Regions from separate parts of the Homo sapiens genome. Here region 2 is linked to region 1. The links come from fine-mapping of genetic effects on gene expression. A gene starts in region 1. The other region holds a variant in brackets. All regions are shown on one strand. Distances are between the middles of the regions. Region 1 holds the start of PRKCZ-AS1 (PRKCZ antisense RNA 1). Region 2 overlaps MORN1 (MORN repeat containing 1).

Evidence for each region. PIP is the estimated chance that this variant, and not a neighbour inherited with it, causes the effect. A credible set is the group of variants that fine-mapping cannot tell apart.
Region 2: its variant is the best candidate, but not a certain one, in a credible set for the expression of PRKCZ-AS1 in whole blood (INTERVAL, PIP 0.56).

The regions. Positions count from the first base shown.
Region 1 is chr1:2,181,085-2,186,443 of GRCh38, reverse strand. PRKCZ-AS1 (PRKCZ antisense RNA 1) reads left to right here and starts at 2,569. Exons shown (of 2, transcript NR_146290.1): 1 at 2,569-2,873; 2 at 3,703-4,650. It overlaps PRKCZ (protein kinase C zeta), which reads right to left. Exons shown (of 18, transcript NM_002744.6): 17 at 1,746-1,861; 18 at 1,049-1,522. The coding sequence ends at 1,435. It also overlaps a transcript of FAAP20 not described here.
Region 2 is chr1:2,322,104-2,327,462 of GRCh38, reverse strand. MORN1 (MORN repeat containing 1) reads left to right here. Exons shown (of 14, transcript NM_024848.3): 13 at 3,320-3,366. Among named protein-coding and RNA genes, the nearest start is that of MORN1, 67 kb to the left of the region's middle. RefSeq lists a silencer at 4,892-5,097 and an enhancer at 4,754-5,359. The variant G/AGAAGGAAGG (reference allele first, on the strand shown) is at 2,350.

The DNA of each region.
Region 1 (5,359 bases):
TGGCATTCTTGTCCTGGCACCTGGGGCTTGGGTGTGAATCCACCATGTCGTGCTGAGCGCCAGGCACGGAGTGGCACCCTGAGAAACCTGAGTGTGTAGGGTGGGCCACGCTCACCTGCTGGGGATGACCTTGAGGCAAGGCAAGGCGCGGCACAGACCTCCTAACTTGGGGTTTTACGTCTCTCTTCCCCAAGCCACCAGCCGCACAATGGGGTGGAGCGGCCCCTGAGTCATGGAGGCCTGGGGTCTCTGCGCCTGGCCAAGAGGGCTGCGTGGCAATTTCCACACCTGTGCACCAGGCCTCACTCAGAGGCATGAGGTGGCGCGACCCCCTCTCCCAGGGAGCTCAGAAGACGGCTCTGCCACACCTGACACCTGGCAGCTGGCAGCCCTGCCTCTAGGAAGCCTCAGCTCTGGACAGCTGTGCCTTCACCTGAGGGGTGGGTGGACGGAGAGCGCGGGTGTGTTCCCGGGAGCAGGAGGTCCGCGCCGCTGGGAAGAGTGCCTGTGTTTCTGGGTGTTTGTAGGGTCATCACGTTCAACTTTAAGGCTGGGGTCCGTCACATGCACATCTTTTAGTTTTCCCTAACTCTCAGTGCTGTGTGACAGATAAGAATATCTTCCAAAAATCAAATGCGTCGCACGAGGCATCGTGCAGGCACTGCTTAGTGTGGTCAGAAATGATTTGTGCAGATTTAGTGTTCAGTTTTTTCTCTTTTTTGGTCTACTGTGCTTTGGTGGGCCACGTTTTAGAATCTCTATGATCCAATTTCCCCCATCGGTCCAGTGAGCTGGCTGGCCCAGCTGCCATCTGCTTAAGGTGTCACTTCACCCTAGACCACAGCGGCTGGGACACACTCTGCAGGAAGAACAACAGGAACTTACCGGGGTTTTTAGGAAACAATTCTTGATTGCGGTGTGTCCCCACAGGTACTTCAACTCCCGCCCCCACCTGTGTCCCGCTGGCTCCTAAGCTGCCCCCCTACGTGTGGGTTGCGTCTGAGATGTGGGGCAGGCGCCACTCACGGAAAAAAGGCATCAGAGGAGCTTCCACATCATCGGAACATTTTATTCCTCAGGACGCTACACGCTCACTTTCCTGGCGGAGCAGGTCAGTGCATCGAGTTCTGTTTCCGTGGAAAATGTGCACCTTGGAAACCGCATGACAGCCCCCTCGGCAGGGTCCCCGCGGATCCGCCGCGACGCAGGCACAGCAGCAAGTTCCTCCAGCACGAAGCTGGCCTGCCCGGGCCCAGGTGTGAGGGACTGTTCTGCTCCCAGCAGCGCCCGCTGACGCTTCCCTCTGCGGTCTCGGCGCAAGCGTCTGTCCCTGGCCGCCCTCGGAGCCGTGCCCAGCCTGGCATGCATATGCGGTGGTTAAGGATACAGTTAAAGGGTCAATCACGCGTGTCCACGACAGAGACGCACGCGGCCTCACACCGACTCCTCGGTGGACAGCAATAATGGGTTGATATACTCAAAGCCTTCGAACTCTGACTGGTCGATCCTCTTTATGGCATCCCTGTGGGCAAAGGTGGCAGGGGGGAGGGGGGTGACCGTGTGTTCATTCCCTTGGGGGAAGCGGAGTCACGTTCGCATAAGAATCCTCCCCCAACGCCCACTGGAGAGATGACACCAGGCGGGTGGGACTCAAGGGCAGGCTGGGTCACCAGCTGCCCAAGGTGCCGGCCTGCCATGGGGCTGCCCGAGGGGTGCTCCAGGGACCCGCACCCAGTGGGACTCACTCATCGTCTGGGGTCAGCTGCACGGGCTCGCTGGTGAACTGTGTGTCAAAGTTGTCCAGACCGTAGTCGTCTGTGATCTGTGGCTGGAATGGAGGGAGCGCCTGCTTCTTCTCCAGCTTGGAAAAACAATAGGAGAAGGGTCAGCTCCGCGCGGGCATCATCCCTACCAGATTGAGTGTTTTGCACGCACTTCAATCACAAAATGAAACAGTGAGAAAGTCAGCATTTCAATCTGCCTAGTATTTGACTGCCAAGTGTTTTTTCTTACAACACAAAATCTAGAAAATATCCAAAGTCAGAAAAATTGTTGTCGAGCTGAGAAATGCCAGTGTCGGCCATGCTGGCCACATGTGGGACGGAGCAGGATCCCCAGCCACCCATGCGAGGCCACCCCCTTCCTTGGGGGGGTCCTTGTTCAGAGGGGCACCGACAACTAACTGGCTGAACAAGCCGTCTCATGACGTCTTGGAACCCTGACCATAAAGGTGTAGGACCTGGCCACAGCACCCTGCCTGCGCTGGCACTGCACAGACCCGTCTGTCAGGAGCCTCCTGCCGGCCCATTTCTGCCTATCCAGGCATCGACTTCAGAATCTCAGGTGCTGCTTGGCAGGAAAATGCCCAGCAGGCGGGCCTGGGACTCGGTGATGCGCCTGTGCCGGGGAGGGCAGAACGCTGGTGCCTGGCACAGGTGCCACAACACATACGGGTGAGGACACTGAAAACCCCTCAGTTCCCCCGACTCATGGCCACTTGTCCCAGTGACACAGCCATGCTCTCCCACTCACCCACAATAGGGTCTGAATGTGCCCCCCAGATTCACAGTGAGAAACTCATTCCCCAGAGCAACAGTGTAGAGAGGTGGAACCTGATGGGAGCCCCGCCCTCACAGACAAACTCCTGTAGCTGTCAAGACAGCTTGGGCATGGATTCCTCTCTGCCTTCTGCCATGTGGACACGTGGCCTTCCTCCCCTCTCTCCTCCGGGGAATGCAGTGTTTGGGCGCCATCTTGGAAGCAGAGATCAGGCCTCACCAGACACCAAGCCTGCTGGCACCATGACCCTGGACTCCCAACCTCCACAGCTGGGAAAGAACTCTGCTCCCTAGAAATTACCCAGGCTCGCTCAGGTATTCTGTTACAGCAGCACCAAGAGACATTCACTCGCTTACTCCCTCACTCTCTAACCCACTCCCATTCACCCTCTCACTCCCTCTCTAACCCACTCCCATTCACCCTCTCACTCCCTCGCTAACCCACTCCCATTCACTCATTCACTCACTCACTCTCTAGCCCACTTTTTTTTTGAGATGGAGTCTTGCTCTGTTGCCCAGGCTGGAGTGCAGTGGCGCGATCTCGGCTCACTGCAACCTCTGACTCCGATTCAAGCTATTCTCCTGCCTCAGTCTCCTGAGTAGCCGGGACTACAGGCATGCACCACCATGCCCAGCTAATTTTGTTTTTTGTTTTTGTTTTGAGACTCGCTCTGTCTCCCAGGCTGAAGTGCAGTGGCACGATCTCGGCTCACTGCAAGCTCCACCTCCCAGGTTCACACCATTCTCCCGCCTCAGCCTTCTGAGTAGCTGGGAGTACAGGCGCCCGCCACCACGCCTGGCTAATTTTGTTTTTGTATTTTTAGTAGAGGCAGGGTTTCACCATGTTGACCAGGCTGCTCCCGAACTGCTGACCTCAGATCATCTGCCCTCCTCGGCCTCCCAAAGTGCTGGGATTACAGGCGTGAGCCACCGCGCCCGGCCCTCTTTAGCCCACTCATTCACTCACTCCCTCGCTCTCTAACCCACTCCTGCTCACTCACTCATTCACTGGCTCACTCACTCTCTAACCCACTCTCTCTCATTCCCTTGCTCGTTCTCTAGCCCACCCTCGCACACTCATTCACTGGCCCGCCCCTTAGGTGTGTGCTCCTGTACCAACACTGAAATCCAGCTGTCACAACAGGCACCCACTGACTCCAGCCTCATGGAACCACCATTCACCAGGCTTGAGGGGAGGATGTCACGGCGCGCTGCTCCCTTCGGTGCCAGCCAGGATGGGGCCGGGTGGGTGCAGCTGGTGAAAAGAAATGCAGCCCCCCAGCCCCTGCAGACCAAGCCGAACAGCCCAGCTCGCGGGTGGATCACAGGGCACCCAGCAGCCGCCTTCCCTCCGGAAGAGCCAAGAAGGCTTCCAAGACCAGAAATGCCCCCAGTGTGGCTGTGCCTGTCCCCGGTGCCCCGCCAGCTGGGGGGCAGCATACCCAAACAGATGCACCCTGCCCATGATGGCACCCCAGGGACCCCCATCCTCAGGACCCTCCAGTCGTTCAAGCTGGAATTGGCAGGTTTCTGCCTGTATAGGCATCGGCTTCAGAGTCTCAGGTGCTGCTTGGCAGGAAAATGCAGGGCAGGAGGGGCTGGGCCTCAGCTCGAGGCTCCCAGGTGCAGCCCCCCACTCCACTGCAGGGCCCAGGGGGGCCAAGAACAGCCACAACAACAACAAAAGCCAAACTGGGAACGGAATCGTGGAAAAAACCCTCATAGGCTTTTGGGAACTTACAAAGAAATGCCCACATCCATTCTACTAACATGGCATCTACTAACGTGGCATCTACTAGGATGCCACAAAACAGACAAATCCTTCCACGTAAGGCTGGACACGTGTCAGGGCGGTGTCTCAAAGCTGGGCCACAGGCAGCATCCACGGCCAGGCCACTGGGTGGAGGAGACGGTGCTGGGGAGGAGCCGGAGGGAGGGGCCGGGGCTGTTCCCTTAGGCAGAACGGCTCACCTGTGGTGTGCGCACAGCAGGATTGTGGGGACACAAGATGCCCCCTTCATTCATCAGTTACTTGTATTCTTTGTATGAAACACCTGCCGATAAAATGTGAAAAAGGGGCATTTCCTAAAGTACTTTCCCTACCTTAGTCCTGTGCTGCTTTACAAGGGTTTAATAAGCAGCAGGGGTGGGAACAGAGCAGGACCCAGCTGGAGCTGGCCCAGGGTCCTCCAGCCCCTGGCCCAGCCCGTTCTCTGCTCCGAGGGCTCAAGATTGCCTCAGTTTCCCTGACAGCATCCCCAGGGGCCAGCGTTACCTCCTCCTCTTGCTCAAAAGCCTTCAGTGCCCATCTCTGCAGCTGGCACGTGGGCTCCAGGTCGGGACCCATGGTGCCTGACACCTTTTCCCACCGCCGCCCCCTGCGCCCAACCCATGGACGTCCTGGCCTCTCAGAGCAGTGCGTTTGAATGCACGCTGGCCCCAGGTCGGACGCTGTGGCAGTAACAGGTGTTGCCCCTGTGGCTGCAACCACAGCAGTGACCTGAGATACAACAGGGGGCCCGTTCCGTGTCAATGGGGCTGGGGGCCCAAGGGCTCTAGTTCTGAAGGGACATCTGAGAAATAGCCTGGGGGAGGTGAGGGCTGGAGCCTGGGGAGGGCACAGCTGTGCAAAGGCCCCATAGTGGGTGTGTGCCTTGTGCGCTGGGGGCCACAGAGGGGCCCCATGAGACCCGAGTGAAGGGGCTGAGGGGGAGGAGGCTTTTGGACACAGGACGACCCTGCTGTCCGTAGGGCCAGGCAGGATGCTGGTGGCTTGGTGGAGGTGGCGGGGGTGGGGTGGG
Region 2 (5,359 bases), 140 kb before region 1:
TGTTTGTGTTGCTGTGTTTCTGCGTCGCTGTGTTTCTGTGTCTCTGTGTCTCTGTGTTTGTTTCTGTGTTTCTGTGTGTTTCTGTATTTCTGTGTCTCTGTGTTTCTGTGTTTGTTTCTGTCTGTGTGTTTCTGTGTGTTTCTGTGTCTCTGTGTTTGTTTCTGTGTTTCTGTGTGTTTCTGTGTCTCTGTGTTTGTTTCTGTGTTTCTGTGTGTTTCTGTGTGTTTCTGTGTCTCTGTGTTTGTTTCTGTGTTTCTGTGTGTTTCTGTGTCTCTGTGTCTCTGTGTTTGTTTCTGTCTGTGTGTTTCTGTTTCTGTGTCTCTGTGTTTCTGTGTTTGTTTCTGTGTTTCTGTGTGTTTCTGTGTGTTTCTGTGTCTCTGTGTTTGTTTCTGTGTTTCTGTATTTCTGTGTCTCTGTGTTTCTGTCTTCGTTTCTGTCTTTCTGTGTGTTTCTGTGTGTTTCTGTGTCTCTGTGTGGGCGCCAGTGTGTCCACAGCGCGCGTCTGTGGGGACGACACAGGCCTCAGACGTCCAGCGCTGCAGAACAGCCACACACAGACCCTGGGTGAGGCCCGGGTCGCTGTGTCTTCACCCTGATCCCCAGACACCAACCCCGACGGGGAGGCCGAGACTGCCAGGCCGATGCCAGGCCAGGCCTCCGAAAGTCAGGAGGGAGCAGGATGTGTCTGCGCGGTGGTGGCAGCTGCTGCCTCAGGCAGAACTGGCAGGAGATGGCGCCGGGGTGGTGCGGACTTACTGGGGCCTCCAGAGGGCAGCCGGTGCCAGGGCCGTCATGGCCAGCGCGTGAGGGACAGGAGTGAGGGACCAGCACCCGCATGAAGGTGCAGTCCCAGGCACGCAGTGGGTGCCCAGACGCACCCCCAGTCCACCGCCCAGGGCTCCTGCACCACCTCCCCATGTGCGGTCCCTGTGGACACTGGCCTCGGGCCTGCTCGCCGTCTGTGGGGCACCGATGCCTGCAAATCTGCACCACCTCCTCCCTAGGCCGAGACTCCCGAGCTCCTTGCTGGCTCTGCCCGTTCTCTCAAAGCCCTGGGGGTTCTGTAAAAGCTCTCAGGATTCCTGTAATCCTGCCTCCTTTCTCTTAGGCTGGCAGCCTGGCAGACTAGTTCTTCTCGGTGCTGAATTATGTACCCCGCTTCCCCAACTCGCCCGCACTCCTGTGTCTTACGTGGGTCCTGGGGTCCGGCAAAGCCTGTTCTCCCCACTCGAAATGAAGTCATTTCAAAGTCTTGTCTTTCATTCTTTTTCACCCAGTTGCTGCCTGTAGGATTTAAGTTTGTCGACGGGTAGGAACCTGGAGAGTCAAGGAGCCCTTGGCTCTCTCCGAGCTCTGGGTGGGCTGTTGACCCCCTTGAGCCACAAGTGACAGGAACTGGCCAGCCACAGCGGGCAGGACGGCGGGAGGAGGCCGCGGGAGGGTGCCAGCCCAGCAGGCCTCCCCAGGCCCATTTGATGGGTAATTCCGGACACAGCCCAGCCCGGCACACCTGGGGCTTCACACAGAAAGAACATCTCAGCTGGGCACGGTGGCTCATGCCAGTAATCCCAACACTTTAGGAAGCCGAGGTGGGAAGATCATTTGAGCCCAGGAGTTTGAGACCAGCCTGGGCAACATAGTGAGACCCCATCCCCACACAAAAAAATTTAAAAAGTAGCTGAGCATGATGGCACGTGCCTGTAATCTTAGCTACTTGGGAGGTTGAGTCTGCAGTGAGCCATGATCAGGCCACAGCACTCCAGCCTGGGCAACAGAGTGAGACCCTGTCTCTATTGCTAAAAAAAAAAAAAAAAAAAAAATCAACAAAGGCCAGGTGCAGTGATCCCAGCACTTTGGGAGGCGGAGGTGGAAGGATTCTCCTGAGCCCAGGAGTTTGAGACCAACCTGGGCAACATAGTGAGACCTCCTCTCTAAAAATTTTTTTAATTATCTGGGCATGGTGGCACACTCCTGTGGTCCCATGGGCATGGTGGCACACTCCACACTCCTGTGGTCCCAGCTCCTTGGAAGGCTAAGGCGAGGGGATTGCTTGCTCGAGCCCAGGAGTTGGAGGCCGCAGTGAGCTGTGATTATGCCGCTGCACTCTAGCCTGGGTCACAGAGCCAGACTCTATCTAGAGAAAGAAAGGAGAGAAAAAGAGAGAGAGAGAGAGAGGAGAGAGAGAGAAAGAGAGGCAGAGAGAGAGAGGAGAGAGAGAGAGGAAGAAGGAACAAGAGAGAAAGAAAAGAAGAAAGAAAAAAAAGAAGGAAGTGAAGGAAGGGAAGGAAGGAAAGGAAGGAAGGGAGGGAAGGAAGGGAGGGAGGGAGGGAAGGAAGGAAGGGAAGGAAG[G/AGAAGGAAGG]GAAGGAAAGGGGAGAGAAAGAAGAAAGTAAGATGTATTTCCGAAGTGCATCTCACTGCCCGGGGAGGAGGGTGGGTGTCCACACAGAGCCAGCCCCTCGTCCTTGCAGCAGGAGCATCGGAGGCACCTGCCGGGCCCAGCTTCCTCACGTGCAGGGACTGCCTCCTCCCCGCCAGGGCCATGGCCACGTCCTCAGGGCCCACCTGCTTCCCTGACCCAGATCCTGCCTGGCCATGGCCCTGCCCCAGCCCGTGGGTGCCCCGAGGCGCTGTCCAGGCAGGAGGAACAGGCCCATCACTTGTTGCAGTTCAGAAACCCTGGTGGGTGGTGGGCCCCCCCAGAGACTGCCTCAGGGCAGGAGCTGCACCCCTCAGGGAGCCAGGGCAGTGAGTGTCTCCACGGGGAGGCCCCGGCAGGACCCCTGGGCCCCTCCCATCCTCACTGCTACCTCTCCTTTCCCAGTCATGGCACTCCCAGGTGACACTGGGCCTCTGTTCCTCCAAGGGGGCACCATACCACCGCCGGGCCTCCTGGTCCCTCTTGCTGAGACTTCCGCCGCTCCTAAGTCGCTCCCTGCAGGCTCCAGCCTCGCCGTCTCTCAGGGGCTCAGGGTCTTTCCCGCCCTCCGGGATCTTCTCAGTTGCACCCTGGGAGGCCTCCGCCTTGTCAGAAGACTGTGGAAATGGGGTGGTCGGTCCCACTCCTGCTCCAAGGCCATAAGCACATCAAGAATTTAGACAAAGAGGATTTGCACAGGGCAGCCCACGGTTCCGAGGTGCAGAGAGCTGGGTGCAGGCTGCCAGAGGACTCTCCCCGTCCTGCCCATGGCCCCGAGGTGGGGTTCGCAGGCCTCTGCTGTGCTGGGGCCCTGAATCTGCCCTGGAGCCACTAGCCCTGGTTCAGGTCAGGGATGCCATGTCGTCGGGGCCCAGGCAGGGCATTCAGGGGCCTCACTGTGTCGTCTCCACAGGCCTGAGGGGAGAGCCACGGAGGAGCAGGCTGCGGCAGCACACCTAGGTAGGTGGACAGGGCCCAAGTCCATCGCCGGCTGTGCCACTGTCTGGAGAGGCGAGGCCGCAGCCCAGGGCTGGAGGTGGGGTTGGGGGAACTCGGCCCGGGGCCCCCAGAGGTAGGTGGCAGTGGGTGGGGGACTGGGGAGCAGCCAGGCCCTCCCAGGGACCTGAATGGGAAGGGGGCTGGTGGCTTGGGGGCTGGGGACGGTCCAGAAAGATTTGAAGCTGGGCCGACACAGCCCTTGATGTGGGGAATGTCCTAGAAAGGAGGAAGCCACGGGGGCAGGGAGCACGGGGACTCGGAGGCCTTGGGGTCCAAGGGGAGCCGAGGGGAGCTGTCAAGGCCCACAGTGGCTGAACCATGAGGAGCTGCTCCCCAGCAAGGCCGGCTGCAGGGCTTGGTGGGCCTGGGCTGGGCGGAAGGCTCCTCCCAGCGTGGGGGCTGCTGTGGGGACAGCAAGGAGGGGTGCAGCGAGGGCCTGGAGAAGGCTCAGGTGCAGACCCTCAGCCGTGGGGCCTCCTCCAGTCGCCCCACAGCCTGGGCCTGGCACCCCCCCACCAAGCCAGAGGGGCCGAATGCCAGGGCACCTCAGCTACACAAAGGCTCGGACCCCTAGCAGGACCTGGGCACCGCGGCTGACTGGCTGCCTGACGGAGAATGGAGCCTCTCTGTCACCTGGGCCAACATGAATGACCCTTCGTCTGGTGTCTCTGGGGTTCTGGCTGGAGAGCCAAAGGCTGGAAGGTCTGGACCCGCTGCTCACTGGGGTCTGGATGCCACCGTGGAGCTGCCTCTGGCGCAGCGGGAGAACAAGCAGAGCCACCCTGGTCGTGGGGACGGCACCCGTGTGGCCGGGGCTGTAGCCAGTGAGGCCTTGGTGACGGGAGCGGCTGGAGTGCCACGCGGTGTCCCCCGTGGTCCCACAGCAGCCCTCACACCATCAACCGGTCCACCGCGTCCCAGCCATCCCAGGAGGGGGCGGGGACATCTCTGCAGTGACAGGAATCGGCTAGGCGCTGGCACCTGTGCGCAGCCGCTCGGCCAGGGTTTATGTGCTCGGCGGAGACAGCCCTGGGGGTGAGGAGCGAAGGGAGATCCGATTCAGGGGCCACTTGGGGCTAAGCCATGTACGTATGGCCGAGGCCCTAAGTGAGAGCTGGCCCAGGGCTAGATCACGTGGCCGTCGAGGCCCGGCCTGCCGCACGGTGGCCACCAGCCAGAGCCCTTGCCGCCCACCCTTCCCATCCGCCGGGACGCCAGCCTCAGGAGTGGGGTCAGATGGGGCCTGTGGCCGGGCTCCTCAGCCACTGCCCACTGAGCTCTCGGCCCCCCGGCCAGCGCCTTGGCCACCACTGGTATAGCTGGATTCCTGGGAACACCTAGAAACCGGGCTGCTTGGAAACACTGTGGCGTTGCCATGTGGGGCTCTTCCTCCGCCCGCCAGGGAGGCTGTCCCCGGTGCCCGGTGCTGTGGCCCACACCCGCCAGGTTGCAGAACGTGTGTCCCCCTGGCGAGGCCCCCCAGAACCGTGTTTTTTTTTTTCTAAAGGAGCTGACTCGGGGCCAAGCACATTCCTCCCGGCCCCCGAGGCTTGCTCTTGTCCAGCCCTGGGAACGCACAGGCGGCCGAGCCCGTGGCCTGGCCGAGGAGGCCGCCGCTCTGCGAGGGGAGCGCTGTTTTCCAGGCCGGCGTCTGGAATGTTGCTCTGCCTTGCGGTGTGAGCCGACTCCTGCCCCCATTTCAGCTGCGGCCGCATTCCTGGTGTGAGCCCGGGCCAGCCGAGGCGCTTTTTCCACGCTCCGGTGCCAGCCCCGGCAGGCTCAGGGGAGGGGAGAGGATGGTTTCTATGGCAACCTCACTTTTTGTTATTTCTTATTTTCTTTTTTATGGTTTCTCCAACTTTGAAGCTCTCCAGACAGTTTACAGACTGTGAAAGGAAAAGTACTTTTCCTTCTCTGCCGAGTGCCCCCAGCAGGGCCGCCCTCCAGCCCCACC